Regions from separate parts of the Homo sapiens genome. Here region 1 is linked to region 2. The links come from fine-mapping of genetic effects on gene expression. Tissue or cell type: tibial nerve. Region 2 holds a variant in brackets; the other region holds the start of a gene. All regions are shown on one strand. Distances are between the middles of the regions.

Region 1 (8,104 bases), 64 kb before region 2:
GGTGTGAACCCAGGAGGCAGAGCTTGCAGTGAACCGAGATAGCGCAACTGCACTCCAGCCTGGGCGAAAGAGCGAGACTCCATCTCAAAAAAAAAAAAAAAAAAAAAAAAAGAAAAATATTGGAACACAGAGCATTTGAACATGCTCATACCTGATTTATGAGATATATGATGGGATATTTTGAACATTAATAAGCATGCTTCCCTCCCCTTCTAACCCCTACCCAGAATTCTTCTGCCCCCCAACAATGCCCCCCAGATAGATATGAGTCACTTGCTACAGAACCAGACACAAGGAATGCAAATACTCATTAGACTCAAAAGCTGGCCTGGAGGTGAGTCAAAGGCCACAAGAAAAAGAGCATAGGCCAGGAGCAGTGGTTCACGCCTGTAATCCCAGCACTTTGGGAAGCTGAGGTGGGCTGATTGCCTCAGCTCCGGAAAACCCCGTCTCTACTAAAATACAAAAAAAAAATTAGCTGGGCATGGTGGTGCATGCCTGTAGTCTCAGCTACTTGGGAGGCTGAGGCAGGAGAATCACCTGAACCCAGGAGGTGGAGGTTGCAGTGAGCCAAGTTTGTGCCACCTCATTCCAGCCTGGGCGACAGAGCGAGACTCCATCTCCAAAAAAAAGAAAAGAAAAAAAGAAAAAGAGCTTAAGAGAACACTGAAACCTCTGCCAGAACATGGGCCATCTGGCAGAGTGCCAGAGACAACCACAGTGTCCCTCTTGTCATTGACTTGTGAAGACCACCAAATGCCCAAAAATCCTTCAGTTCAGAGGGATGTGTGTCAGTGCCTCAGGACACTTCCCAGTCCCCATCAATTTCATTCCATATGTAGACAAATCTGTCAAACAGTCCAGGACACTTGTATACACTTGTACCCCCCTTCCCTAAACAGAGGAGCTGTGGGCCCTTAGTGATTGAAGGGTGATGGTGACGTGAAGGGGAAAGCCTTGAGCTGGCCAAGGGGGCTCTAGCTAGCATGAGTTGGAAATCTTCCTCTGAGCTAGAAGCTGTGTAGAATACACACTCTTGTTACAGATGAACTAAAAAACTGTACATTAGAAACACAAAATGAACAGTATTTCAAACCTCTATGATATGTGTTTACAATGAAACATGACAGGCTATGTTTAAAAAAAACCTTTCAAGACATGTTATTTGACGATAGTATCACAAGTCTAGAATTTAACATAGAATAAATTTTAAAAAATCAAACCACCTAGAAAAGGTTTTTTTTTTTTTTTTTTTTTTTTTAAACAGAGTCTCACTCTGTCGCCCAGGCTAGAGGGCAGTGGCACCATCTTGGCTCACTGCAACCACCACCTCCTGAGTTCAAGTGATTCTCCTGCCTCTGCCTCCAGAGTAGCTGGGACTACAGGCATGCACCACCATGACCAGCTAATTTTTTTAATTTTTTTTATTTTTGAGACTGAGTCTCACTCTGTCGCCCAGGCTGGAGTGCAGTGGTGCGATCTTGGCGCACTGCAAGCTCCGCCTCCCAGGTTCATGCCATTCTCCTGCCTCAGCCTCCCGAGTAGCTGGGATTACAGGTGCCCGCCACCACGCCTGGCTAATTTTTTGTACTTTTTAGTAGAGATGGGGTTTCACCGTGTTAGCCAGGATGGTCTCGCTCTCCTGACCTCGTGATCTGCCTGCCTCGGCTTCCCAACGTGCTGGGATTATAGGCGTGAGCCACCATGCCCAGCCTAGAAAAGCTTTTTAAAAAATTATCCTGAATAACATTTGGATCAAAGAGGAACTCAAAACTGTAATGACAAGTTTTATTTAGAAAATAGGAGATCCATATCATTCATGAAAACAAGGTATGAAACCAAAGCCATACTCAGGAGGAAAATTTATAGTTTTATAAAAATAAATAAAAGACATGAGATTAAGGATACCCAAATACACTTTAATGGGCATTTGTTGTTGCTTATATATATTATTTTTATATATATTCTCTAATATATATTATATATTCTCTAACATGGTATATATTAAAGAATGTATATATTATATATATATAATATATGATATAATATATATATATATAAAATTTGGCTGCCTAACCTCTGAAGCTTCCTCCTATAGTAGGGAAATCTGCCATGGAGTGAATCCACCAATCAGATGCTGCCCTTGCTACTATGCAGCTGGAGTGACTGCCTGAAAGGGCAGCCTTCATTCTGGTAGCCATGGCCAGGGCTCAGTGGCAGAGCCAGCATATCCCAATCAAGCTGTTCCTGGACACCCTGTGGATCTCAGTGCTCAGATTCCTAATTCCTGCTCATCCCCTCCACCTTGTTCCCTACACCCCTCCTGTGAATCTCCAGGCTGCCTGACATCCTTCTCCAATACATATTTTCCAGCTTATGTTAGCTAGAGTCAGTTTCTATTGTTAAAACCCTCAAACTCTCACTAGTCTTCTGAACAAAAGTGAAGGAAGGAATGTGTAAGAATAATGAAAGAAAAATCAATGAGAGAGAAAAATCTGTAGCAATGATGAGTACCTTCAAAAATATTTTGAAAGACCAATAAAATCAGCAAACCTCCAATAAATCTATTCACTGAAAAAATTAAGACAAATCACAAAAACTTTTACAAAGGAGAAAATGTATATGAAAGATTCTGAAGTTTAAAAAGTATGATCTTCAACTCTATACTTGATTAATGAAGGAGATAAATTACCAAAATCAACTGAAGTGAGAAACTTGAATGTACTAACGACTGTGGAGGAAATGCCAATAAACTGTTTGAAAAAAAAGCACCCCCCTCCTCCCAAAGGGCACAGAGCCGGATTGGTCTAGGGGGAGGTACCATAGAACCGGTGCTATTTAAACCTCTCTGGAGCATGGAGAAAGAGGAAGCTGAGCAGCCCTGAATAGCCTAGGACAAGAGAGACCTGCCAATCCTGGACTCCAGCTGCAGCTGGCTCTCTGCCTTATGTAGTGGTTGGCCTGCGGTGAAGCCCACTGTTGAGAGGCATTTGAACTGTTGTATGGACAGGTCATCTTGCTACGCCATTCTGACCCAGCTGTCACCACCCTCACACTTTTTAGTTATCTATCAGTGGCTGGTGTCAGGCAGGTAAGCCCACAACACTCACCCAAGTCATGCTCATTAACCCTCTGACTGGCTGCCCTTATCCCACGATCTCCACTAAGTTCAAGCATTTTTTCCCCAGTATCAGAGGAGGAACACTGTTTATTCCAGTCTACATGCTTCAAGTAGAAGTGAGGAAACCAAGGCCCAGAGAGGTGTGTACTTACTTGCCCAGTCCTCACTAGGATGAAGTCAGGGTTAGGACTAGCCCCGACTGGGCGCTGGGAGCTAACAGCTAGGGGAGGAACTGCATGACTTTTGTCCTGGAGAAATGTTATGGCAGGTGGACACCAGGGCACAGGCATATACCCGAAGTGTCCAGGGCAGACAGGGACTGCTCGTCACCCCAGATGGGACCTGCTAAGGGCCCAAAAAGAGACTGAAGGTGGGAAATGTTTTTGTTTTTCAGTGTGAAGCGTTGCCAAACATATATTCTAGGTTTGGGAATCCTCGGGACCTTTGGAAGCCAGATTCAGCGAAGATGCTGTACCTTTTGGGGATAGCTCTAACACGAGGTTAACGCAATGCTCCATGTCCCTGGCTGGGCTTAGCTGTGAGTGCGTCGACCTCTGGACTCTGTGCAAATGGACACTCTGTAACTGACACAGCTGGTAGGGGTTACCGAGAGAGCTGGGTTCCTGGTCTGGTGGACTCCGCCGGATATGCAACGAGCTCTTTATGGCACCTTGGAGATGGTTGCTTTTAGTGCCGTTGACAGCGGGCTCAGAGCACCAAGTGAGCTAGCACCGTATTTATTAGTAAATTACTCCATAACTCTAGGGCTCCCAGAAGACCAAAATCATTTGAGCAGATTGCACCCAGAGCACCGCGTGGAGAGAGAAGAAAGCCCGCCACCCACAGACCGCTTCCTCCTACCACAGGTCCCCCATCGAGTTGCATTTGTTGTCCCTCCCTAGGCGCATTTCTGAGCCTTCCTTTCTTAAACATACACCGAGCGAAAATGCGCCGGAGGGAGGCGATGTTGCCTGTGAGCCAAAGCCGGTTCGGCACCAAGACAGAAGCAGAGAGAACTGATCTCTCTCCCGGTACCCATGACAATCTCAGAGCTAGATCTATATCGTCCCGCGCCCAGCAAGAAGCACTGTGTGACTGTACTCCCCCGACCCCCAGGACATCCCCACGCCCAGCTTCCCAGGCCGGTCTTCTGCGCGGCTCAAGTAGCCCAGGTCTCCACGCAACAATGAAGCGTGGGCGGCCCCAGCAGCTTCATTTGCATATCGCCGCGGCTTGGCCAATGGGCTGCGCAGGGGCTTTGGAACGCAGTGTTGCCATCGGCGTGCGCGCGTGTGTGCGAGTGTGACAGCGGCTGTGGCTGTGGCCGTGGCCGTGGGAGGCGGGCCCGGCGGAGCCCAGCCGCGGGGGGACCGGCCCGGGCTCCCGCTCCCCGAGCGCGTCGCGGCCGCGTGGCCCAGCCGAGCCTTGAGACCACCCCGCCCCTGCCGGTCGCAGTCGCGATGTCGGTGGCCGGGCTGAAGAAGCAGTTCCACAAAGCCAGCCAGGTAGGGAGGCGCAGAGGAGGGAAGGAGGGAGGGGGACGCGGAGGCTGCGGCCCCCCGAGGCTCCCGGGCCTTTGGGACTCCTGTTCCCTGAAGGGCCTCTCTCGGGGCTCAATTTCTTCCCGCCTAGGAGGGCGCGAGGGTGGGGTGAGGGGCCGCCTGCTCTCTCCTCGGCGTCTTGGCGCCTTCTCCTTCCCATTCCCTGGCCCCCGGCTCTGCCCTGGGCCGTTGTAAATCGGAGAGATTCTGCGGAGCGGAGGGCAGAGGTGGCGGCCGCGGGGACTCGGGAGGCGGAGACGGAGTGGGCGTGGGGGGGCCCCTACCCGCGCGAGGGGAGGACGACCACAGGGAGTACGATGCCGGCAGGGCCTCCCCCGAGTCTCCAGCCGTTTGGTTGGGAGAGCCTCGTGGGGGGCCCATCCTCCACCGGCCACCGGCGCCTCCAGAGATGCTGTGTATTTGGCGCTTGGCTGTGTCCCGCTGAGCTCCCCGCGCGCGCATCGAAATGGCCCCGTCTGGACTGTGCCCGGCTCCCCGGCTGGGGCTCTCTACCGCGGTCCTTCCCCTCCCCACCGTCTTCCCGGTGTCGGCCCGGGGCTGGGCATCACGCTTCTGCTCTTACAGAGCTGACAGCCTGCAGGGGAGACACGGAGACAGACACGTAAACAAACAGTGCTAGACACACCTCCACGCACAGAGGATGACAAATAACACAGTGGGGGCGTCAGGGAGAGCTTCCCGGAGGAGGAGACATGTCATTTGAGAATTAAGTATGAGGAAGAATTATGGCTGAGGGTGTGGGATGATAGGAGGAAAGCCGTTCTGAGCAGAGGAAACAGGAAAACAGGAGGGGAGACATGAAATTGATGTGTGTGTGTGTGTGTGTGTGTGTGTGTGTGTGTGTGTTGATGACAAGCAAATTTGTTTTTCAACATCAACATTGCAGGCTCTTCCAGCTATGGCAGAGCTCACGTTGTAAAACCTGTTCCCCACCAGCACCGCTGGGTCTGTTGCTTCTCACCACCTCTCCCCGCAACCCCAGCCCCCATTTTGCTAGAGCCAGGGTAGACAGATTTCATTCAACGTCCACATTTGTGGTGAGGTCTCATCCTGCTTCTCCCACAAATTGGCCCATAGAAAGCAACTGCAATTAGAAGATTCTCTTCTTCTAGCCCCAGTTCCAGGCTGAAAGGCACTGCTGTCCCCTCACTCACACTCTTTCCATATGGAAACTGGGTGATGCTGTTTCTAGCTGGGGGCACTGGGTGGACAGTGGTGCTATTCAAGGTGTTAAGGAGCCCTGGAGGAGAGGCTATTCAGGTGAGGGTGGAGATGATGGATTCACCACTGAACCCAGGGACTTTGAGGGGTCTTTGGGACATTCACATGTCACTGGCCTGGGTTGGGGTGCATATCCTGACCTGCAGCTCAGGGGGTGAGGCTGGTACTGGAGCTACAGATTTTTGGTGATTTCCAGCCTAAGCGGAGATTTAAAAATGTATGTGTAGACAAAAGTGAGAAAAGGCACAGCGAGTTAAAGGCAGACTCTAGACAGCACCCCCATTTAGGGACAATGTTTAGCCCAGTAATTGTTGAGCAGTGACCACTCAATAAATATTTATTGAATAGATGAAATTTTGGGGTGGCACAACACAGGAAAGAAAGAACTCGTAGATGACAGGAGAGAGAAGACCATCATGGAAGGGGGACATTTAAAGGCAGGAGCAATCAACAAGTGCTTCAGTGAGCTAGGTATTGTGGAGTGTCCTCAGCTGGTACAGCCAGGAGGCCGAGTGCTGCTGTGAGCAGAGCAGAGCAGAGCAGTGCCAGAGTAATCGCTGGCTGTACTTGTTACATTGGCTTCCTTAGCACTGGCAGGAAATGAACCTCCTCTTTTGAAAACTTTTCCTTTATTGGGTATGGACTTCACAGGGGCAAATCTCAAAGATAAGCAAATCTCAGAGATAACGTAAGCCCTTGGGTGATTTAAGTTGGTTTCTGACAGTAACCAGAATGAATGGTTGAAATCCTTGGAAGTTATTGGCACTGGAGAAATATTTTGCTAGTCATGGGTAGTTTGGTTTAACTACCTGTAATCAGTACATTAAAAATGAAATGAACAGAACGTCTTATTTAGTCTTTTTTTTTTTTTTTTTCGCATGAGCGGAAATAATTTATGACTTTACCTGAAAGGAGAGGCATCACAGATTCTCTCTGGGCTTCATAGCCATGTTTTGTGGTTAAAAGTACTCAGTAGATATGTTTTAATATGTTCTAGAAGTCTTTCTAAAAAATCTTGCAATGCAACAATTTGGTGGAGAAATCAGACCGGTTTAATATAATATGAGGGAGCTCAATAATAAAAAATGCCAGATGTTTTTCTCAGACAACATTTTAACAGCAGGTTTTAATTCATACAGAACTTACCTGGGGCAGGGGAAGGGAGCCCCAGATGATGTCAATGGCTAAAATAATTTCCAGGGATCTAGGTCTGGCTCAGCCACTGACCAGCTCTGTAACCTTGGGAACATAACTTAACCCATCTGGACCTTGGTTTCTATCTGTATGATGACTCAGGGAATTTAGAAGCTATGTTTCTGTTATAAAAATGATTGTGGCAATGGTTTCACAACTCTGTGAATATGCTGAAAACCACTGAATTGTACACTTTAAGAGAATTGTATGGTATGTGAAATATATCTCAATAAAGTGATACGAATATGTCTCTGTGTCTCTGGGTGTGTGTGTATGTATACATCTCAGTGCTGAAATTCTTAAGTAAGTTAAGCATTTCAGAGTAAGACAAAGATGATAAAGTGGACCTTTTACAGAGAAGGGATCCAGGACCATGGCAAACTGAGATAGTTTTCTGAAAGATAAGCGAGGTAAAATTAGCTATAACCCGGTTAACTGTTCCTTTTTTCCTGATACCTTCCCTATCTCTGGGAAAAAACCCCTACTTTACAGAGAATGAAGACTCGTAAACCCTGGGGATTATGCATCATTTTGGCAGCACATGGAGACCAACAGGAAAGAGGAAGAAATATGCTAAAATGAGAAGAATATAAGTTAACAAAAAAATTTAATTAATTCTAAGTTTCAGCGTTTGAGACTAGAACCCAAATTTTTCTTTTTTTTTTTTTTTCTAATATGCATTATCCTTTATTAAAATGGGATATTTTTCTTTTTTTTTTTTTTTAAGGTTATAGATTTTCTTTTTTTTTTTTAATTTTTTTTTTTCTATTATACTCTAAGTTTTAGGGTACATGTGCACATTGTGCAGGTTAGTTACATATGTATACATGTGCCATGCTGGTGCGCTGCACCCACTAAAGTGTCATCTAGCATTAGGTATATCTCCCAATGCTATCCCTCCCCCCTCCCCCGACCCCACCACAGTCTCCAGAGTGTGTTATTCCCCTTCCTGTGTCCATGTGATCTCATTGTTCAATTCCCACCTATGAGTGAGAATATGCGGTGT
Region 2 (8,104 bases):
TTTCAAACCTCCACTCCTTCAGCGATAAAGGCTCCCAAGGAGTGGCTGAAGGCTGGGGAGCATCGCAGCTCTGCCCCATCTGTTTACCGTAACAGGTTTTGTTTATAGAAATCATTCTCTTTTGCTAAAAAAAAAAAAAATTTCCTGATTGGTTGTTACTGAGGTTTGAAACCCTGTTTTTGTGTACGCTTTTTTTTTTGAGACGGAGTCTTGCTCTGTCACCCAGGCTGGAGTGCAGTGGCACGATCTCCGCTCACTGCAAGCTCTGCCTCCCGGGTTCATGCCATTCTCCTGCCTCAGCCTCCCAAGTAGCTGGGACTACAGGCGCCCACCACCATGCCTGGCTAATTTTTTTGTATTTTTTTAGTAGAGACAGGGTTTCACCGTGTTAACCAGGATGGTCTCGATCTCCTGACCTTGTGATCCGCCCACCTCGACCTCCCAAAGTGTTGGGATTACAGGCGTGAGCCACCGTGCCCGGCCTGTGTACACTTCTTTTTAATGAATGATCTTTACTGATATCTTTTGTTGGTTTTAATTACTTTTTTAGTGATTCATCTTGGATCTTCCAGGTATTCATTCCTTTATTATTATTATTATTTTTTTTTTGAGAGAGAGTCTCGCTCTGTCGCCCAGGCTAGAGTGAAGTGGCATGATCTCAGCTCACTGCAACCCTGCCTCCTGGGTTCAAGTGATTCTCCTGCCTCTGCCTCCCGAGTAGCTGGGATTACAGGTGCATGTCACCACGCCTGGCTAATTTTTGTAGTTTTAGTAGAGATGGGGTTTCACCATGTTGGCCAGGCTGGTCTTGAACTCCTGACCTCAGGTGATCTGCCTGCCCTGGCTTCCAAAAGTGCTGGGATTACAGGAGTGAGCCACCGCGCCTGGCCTCATTCATTTATTTATTGAAAAAATATTTATTCAGTGCCCACCCACTGTGTACCAGACACATTTCTAGGTGCTTGGAATATATCTATGAGCAAAATCCATGTATATCATATGGTAAGCTCAAAATGAGTATATTATACGGTAACTACTTTGGAGAAAAAGAAAATGGATCAAGGGTTCTAGAGGTGGGATATGGGATCCAGGCAGAATTTTATTTTATTTTACTTTATTTTATTTATTGATTGATTGAGACGGAGTCTTGCTCTGTCACCAGGCTGGAGTGCAGTGGTGCGATCTTGGCTCACTGCAACCTCCACCTCCCGGGTTCAAGGGATTCTCCTGCCTCAGCCTCCGGAGTAGCTGGGACTACAGGTGCGCACCACCACGCCCAGCTAATTTTTGTATTTTTAGTAGAGACGGGGTTTCACCATGTTGGCTAGGATGGTCTCGATCTCCTGACCTCGTGATCTGCTTGCCTCAGCCTCCCAAAGTGCTGGGATTACAGGCTTGAGCCACCGTGCCCAGCCCAGGCACAATTTTAAATACCGTGGTCACCATAGGTCTCATTGAGAGGGGGACATTTAAACGAAGACTTGGAGGTAAGGACGCCGGCTATGTAGATATCTGCTGGAAAAGCATGCTTGGCAGAGGGGAAAGCCTGTGCAAAGGCCTTAGAAACACGCTGGAGGTGTTCGAGGATCATGGAGGGGTGTGGCTGGAGTGCAGTGAGTGAGGGAGTCAAGGTTGGTTAGGGAGGGATAGAGTAGGGGACAGATGTTTGTATGGGGCCTTAGTGTAAAGACTGACACTGAGTGAAGAGAGGAGCCATTGCAGAGTTCTGGAATATTGTAGGGACAAGATGGGCTTACTTTTTTTTTTCTTTTGAGATGGAGTCTCGCTCTGTTGCCAGGCTGGAGTGCAGTGGCACGATCTCAGCTCACTGCAACCTCTGCCTTCTGGGTTCAAGCGATTCTCGTGCCTCAGCCTCCCAAGTAGCTGGGATTACAGGCAGGTGCCACCACACCCACTTAATATTTGTATTTTTAGTAGAGATGGGGTTTCACCATCTGGTTGGCCACCATCATGTTGGCCAGGATGGTCTTGATCTCCTGACCTCGTGATCCGCTTGCTTCAGCCTCCCAAAGGGCTCGGATTACAGGCGTGAGCCACTGCTGGGCTTACATTTTTAAAAGATCATTCTGGTTGCTCCTTTGAGAATAGATTTTAGAGGGGCCGGGGTAGAAGCAGGGAGACTGATTAGAGGCGATTGTAACGCTCCTCACCTAGGATCTTACTGTGCATTGAGCAATTGGTAAGGCTTATGGAATGAATGTTTTTACCTACATCGGGCATTTTAGCGTGCATTAAGAAACTACACATTTAAAAAATACATATTTTTCTTGAGAAAGTGATGGGACAGAAAAGTGAGAGCAGGGGAATTGCCTTTGGAACAGGCCATTTTGGTCAAGCCTTGTCCTGGATAAAGAAGATGGGGAATGAAGGCTGACCTGCCGTGGAGGGGAGGAATGGGCAGGCATGCCCTGCCTCATCTCACGGAGTGAGGGCAGAATCTGGGGAGCGCGTTCTTGGATGTCCCACCAACTTTGGAGAGGACCGGAGGCTGGGGATAGACAAGGACTACTATGATGAAGGAAGCTCGTAAGTTCGTGTTTGCTTCTAAATGGTTGCTGTGGCTTTCTGGCTTTAAACTGGTTTATATTTTCTGCAACCTCACTTCTTCCTAACTATTTAGTAGACCAGAACTTCTCGGTAATTTATTGCTCAATAGTGGGAGAAAGGAAGAACTTCGTTTTCAGGTTAAGACTTCATATGTCAAATCCAGTTTTATTGGTGTGATAAATGCTGGTTTCTGTTAAATTTACCAGGTTGGTCAGTACTGGTTCCTGATACAAGAACTGTATTTACCCTTTTAAGAAGATGATTTAAACTTCTGGAGAAAGGAAGAGGGCAAAGATCTTTAAAGAGTATGCTATTTTTATGACGCCTCCCTAATTATTCAGAAATATGAATAATTCAGGAATTTAACTGTAGAATAAGTATAAATTACCCGGTTACTGCCTTGAAAGAGTTTACAATCACCTTGAAGAGAATCCTGCCCTCACCCCCACCAGTTTCACAAAGCCTATTTTAAATTATACCCTTGGAAAAATTAAACCAAAACACTGCGCAAATATGTTTGGTGTGGAGTTCATTTCTTTGATTTAGTCCTTTCACTTTGGGCCCACACACTTTTGCCATCCTTTAGGGAGCATGCCCAGTGCTAGATTCGAAGCGAATATATTAATGTATGTGTTCACCCATCAATGCCTTGTGCTGAGGGAAAAACAGAAGAGAGTGTCATGGAAGGCTTAAGGATTCTTTTTTTTTTTTGCTGATACAAAGTACTTTTTGTTATTCAATGCTTGTGCCATCATCAGACAACTTCATCCAGAATGCACAGCAACTCTGTAATATAGCTCTGCCTGGTGCAAAATACCTCATTTTGTATAGAAATGCAGGATTGCTTCATGTAGATACAATAGAAAGAATCTTTGCTTTATTCATGTATGAATAAAACGTCTTTGTTCATGGAAGAGAAAAGTGCCTCTTATTGTTTGGAAGCTGTGTGAATTTTAAATTAAGCTGATGG[C/T]CCACTATATTACATATTTCGGGGGAAAAATTAGCTTTGCTTATATAAGTTTGGAATCTAATGTCTAACCTAGTGGCCTAAATAATTTTTGCTTTGCAGTTTGTTTATTATGTAAAGACATTGTGTTTGCCACAGACATTGCCTGTCAATGAATTGCTTTAGCAAAATTCTATAGTCCTAATTTTAAAAAGTTGTTATTTATTCCCTTGTCCCACATAAGATTTGAAGCAGCTTGCAAAAAATTAAAAATACAATGTAAATAACAGTCATAAATCATGATCAGAGAAAATATAAATATTTTATGGAAAAGTCAAAGCTTGTAGAGGCATGTGTGAGTGTATTTATGTGTCAATATACATGTAAAAGGGTCCATGAAGCAGCTATGTGGATCCTCAGATTTGATGTTGAGCTTCCTGGCAGCCAAAGTGGAAAAAGGAAGGCAATCAGTTAATCCTTTCTCTGGGTTTGCAAAGGACTGCTTAGAGCATATCCACCGCCAAGCAGGGGTATGGCATTCGGGCTTTCCCAAAAGAAAGCTGGCCACTCAGATGTTCTCACTCATAGGTGGGAATTGAACAATGAGAACACTTGGACACAGGGTGGGGAACATCACACACCAGGGTCTGTTGTGGGGTGGGGAGAGGGGGGCGGGATAGCATTAGGAGATATACCTAATGTAAATGACAAGTTAATGGTTGCAGCACACCAACATGGCACATGTATACATATGTAACAAAGCTGCACGTTGTGCACATGTACCCTAGAACTTAAAGTATAATAATAATAAAAAAAAGAAAGTTGGCCAATCGGAAGAACGGATTAAATAAAGGAATGCTGTAGGTCCTGGGACCCCCATGATGGTGCCTTAGGCTTTTCCCTTTGCAGAAAGTACCACCTCTGGCAAGTGACCTGCAGGACTACAGGCAGAAGTAGGGCTGGCAGAGTGCCTGGTGTGCAGTCACAGAACCCTCCAGCTCCAGATGTAAACTTTTGGCTTTCTTCAAAGTGTTCGCTGGTTCTTAACAAAATGAGAAAAAATAAGAACAAATAAGGAAAAAAAGTAAATTTCCTTCAAATCTGAATTTACGTGACGTCAGATATTATGTTCTTCCTATAATTTTAGTATTAAAAGTTCCTTTTTAAAATGAAAACAGCAGCAATAGTTCAAAAGGTTGTGTCCTTTCCTGGGGAAATGAAAAAAGTTGAAAACACTTTGTATACGGTAATAATAATAATCACTATTACTACTACTACGGGTATTTACTGCTTATGAAATCTAAAAGTCTAGAAACTCCTATTTCTCTTGGGCTCTACAGCATCTCAGTCAGCTGCTTTGTCTCCAGGATCACATTTCCAATTTTCTCTCTTTTCTCTCTCCCAGTGTACCGCGCACCTGCTGGTTCCCTCACCCAGTACATCTTGGCTCCCAGGAAGCCACACCCTTGACATTTACCATGCTTCCTGGGCATTTCCTGCTACCATCCCCACCCTGGACAGGGCTAGGATGGTATCAGGACTTAGTGCTGCACAAGCTTTCAGGATACCGGGTAAGAGGGGAGTTTGACACTTGGAACAATACTGGACCTAAAAGGAGCCAGGCCTTGGATGGACAGTCACTCTCCATGAGTTTTTGCACCATGTCAGCACTATAAACTCACTGCAGTGGGAGTTTCGCATTGACAAGGGTCTTCAGACCTAGCTCACCTCAGAAGGTAAGGGGGGCCTTGACAGGTCCTCTCAAGGGGGATAAATGCCACCTGCTATTTAAGGAGACTTGACCCCATCCCTGCTTCTATCCATTAATGGGTGACTTTTTAATTCTTCTGGAACTCTTATTGCCAAGGTCTTGGTGGGACTGAGGGTGAGATCGCTTTTCTGTAACACAGATGCATTGCCATTTTGCTCCTTGATAGTGTAAGATGTTTAAGTCAATTAAGACAAAAATGTGCTTAATACTCTTTTCATTTGCCTTAACAACTCCACGTTTATTTAATATCAGTTTAATTCTTGGCTGCTGCAAGGTCTGGGTAGTTTTCATTTCGAAACTACTCCTAGGGTGAGAAGTCTCTTAAGTGCCTGTGGTATTCCCAAAGAATTTGCTTTTGTGCGGCAGTCACAGCCTGGAAGCGCGCTGCTTTCTTTGCTCCTGGTGTCAGAAAAGCTACTCCTGGTTCTCAGATTGGGCTTTCCTGCACATTAGAATTGGAAAGGTCCTCTTTGTGTCTGCCCCTGTAAGGGAGCCAAACAAAAGGCGCCAGAGTGGTGGTAGGGCAGCATCATCGCTCCCTAACCTCCACCCTCCTCCTTCTCTCTTCCTTCCTCCCCGTCCCTGCCTCCCTGGCCTCCCTACTCCTCCATCCCCTCCAAGACTCTCAATGTAGTCAGCGCTCTGTTTTCCCCACCTTTGCCTGGCTGCCACCTCCCTCCCTCCCTCTCCCTATCAGCTTCCTCCGGATGAGGTGCTATTCTGCATGGACCCCTTAGAGTACTCATTAACTAGATGAATAAGCTGCCAGCAATATTGTTCCTGCTTCCCACATTTTAAAAAGGTTATCTCTTTCTTTTTCCTTCTAAACTTTAGAGCCATTTGAAAATAATCTTTTGGAAATATATTTACATAGGTCTCATGACAAATCCACATACTCCTTTTCAGACAGGTTTCAACGACTGCATAATGAGATGGTCTGGGTCAGCTTTGCACAAAAGTTGTACTTTTCCTGCTGTGAATCTGTATTTTTCCGCTGTGTGTATTTGCAATGACTTTCCCGCCCTACCTTCCACTAGTGATGCATTAATCACAGCATGGAGCTGAGAGGCGTGGGATTGGAAGGGTCTTTGAGAAGTTTTTTAATCGAGCTAGAACGAGGTCAAGGTTTTGAGCATTTAACTTGTGGGATGTTAATTACTTGGCTATGAAAAGGAAATTTGTTTTCTGAAAGTTCAACTGTAGCTACAGAATAAAGGCCATGGAAAGATAAGGCATGGTGTCAAGAGGTTTCATGATCTTATTCCACCTCCTTTTCAGGCCCCAACTCCACTCAAACCCTCCACTGTTGAGCCACACTGGATGTGTCACCCTCTGTCCCTAGACGTGCTGGACATCTGCATCCTGTGGTGCCTCGGCTCAGGCTTCTCTTTCATCTGGGAAAACCCTTGACCCTCTCCTAGACTTCCCAAATGCTGCTTCAAGGCATCATCCCTGCCCTCCTTCCTTTAGAAAGTCTTTTCTACCACTGAGAACACTTCCCTCATGCTCCACCGCAGACTGTACTTCATGCTGCTTTGCTCTTTGTGGTTGATGCATCTGTCTCTCCCACTAAATCATGACCCTCCATTCATTTCTACTTCCCACTCTACCCAGGGCATGGTAGGTGCTCAATAAATCTTTGCTGAATGGAATTTTTTCATCTAACCCAAGAGCAACCTGAGCAGAAAATCATAAATGAATAAGGATCGTAAATGGATGATCATCATAAATGACTAATCATCATAAATGAATGCTTATGGGATATACACAAATTGCAGAACACTGATAGCTATGGCATAGCTCTTATCCTAGAGTGAGTTTCAATTCACTTTAGGTTAGGACATAGAAAAGACAAGGAGAAACAACTAGTCCATGAGGATTTTTTCCATGCTTTGTTCTTTCCATCTGTGCTGTTCAGTAGCTAGTTTCACTGAGCTTCCCTGTAGTGGATGGGTAGAGATTGTGTATTATAAGTACTTGCTCATCAGTGGCTCAAGGGCAAAAATCTCAGTGCCTAGAGTTTGGCATAATATTATGTGAAAAATAATTTTTTGCAATATAATGAGATGTGACACTCCCCACTTTCCAGAACAAGGACTTGTCTCCTTTGGATTTCCAGACCTAAAGAAGAACATCTCCCTTGAAAAACTTTTCCCACTGGCAATTCAGCCCTCTGTTTTCCAAACCCACTTAGAAGCTAAGTTGCACTGGAAATACACAATGAAATGTTTATGGGAAAAAGGGGCATCATATCCACAATTTGTTCTCAAAATGATTTAGTGGAGGGAGAGAGAGAGAGAGGGTGGAAAGGGTGGGTTGGAGGGAGCAAAAGAGAGACAGAGAAAATTGATAAAATAAATGAGATAAAATTGAGGGAATCTGGCGAAGTCTATTGGAGCATTCTTTGTAGCATTGGGGAATTCTTTGTCATATGCTTGCAACTTCTCTGTAAACCAGACATTATTTCAAAATAAGTTTTTTTGAAAAGCAAAAGCAAATTCTTTGAATTCTTACCCAGTTTAAAAGGATGATATGATTGCAAAAAAGTTGTGTTTCTCTATCTATAGGCATAAATGGTAGTGCTTGGCAGTTTAGGATCCATTCACACAGAAACTGCATTTGAGGCAGGTGTTTGTGAGCACCTTTTGACCCCTTGACATTTAAGCAAAGGAGAAGTGGGTTCCTCTTATTCGCAGCTGTCATAGGTCAGACTTCTGCTTGTTGGGCGTGTCAGGCTGGGAAATTCCCCTCACCGCCAAGATGTCCATGTCCTAATCCCTAGGACCTGTGAGTGATAACTTATATGAGAAGGCAATGCG

Which allele goes with the higher level. Alleles are on the strand shown, and positions count from the first base shown. SD is a standard deviation of normalised expression in the study named.
For the expression in tibial nerve of the gene that starts at base 4,389 in region 1, T is the low allele of the variant in region 2 and C is the other (moderate effect, 0.63 SD a copy in GTEx).

Evidence for each region. PIP is the estimated chance that this variant, and not a neighbour inherited with it, causes the effect.
Region 1: SH3GL3 starts here. The variant in region 2 is fine-mapped to the expression of SH3GL3 in tibial nerve (GTEx, PIP 0.96).

The regions. Positions count from the first base shown.
Region 1 is chr15:83,442,953-83,451,056 of GRCh38, forward strand. It overlaps SH3GL3 (SH3 domain containing GRB2 like 3, endophilin A3), which reads left to right and starts at 4,389. Exons shown (of 9, transcript NM_003027.5): 1 at 4,389-4,626. The coding sequence starts at 4,582. RefSeq lists an enhancer at 4,085-4,244.
Region 2 is chr15:83,506,825-83,514,928 of GRCh38, forward strand. All of the region lies in intron 1 of SH3GL3 (SH3 domain containing GRB2 like 3, endophilin A3), which reads left to right. Among named protein-coding and RNA genes, the nearest start is that of SH3GL3, 64 kb to the left of the region's middle. The variant C/T (reference allele first, on the strand shown) is at 3,539.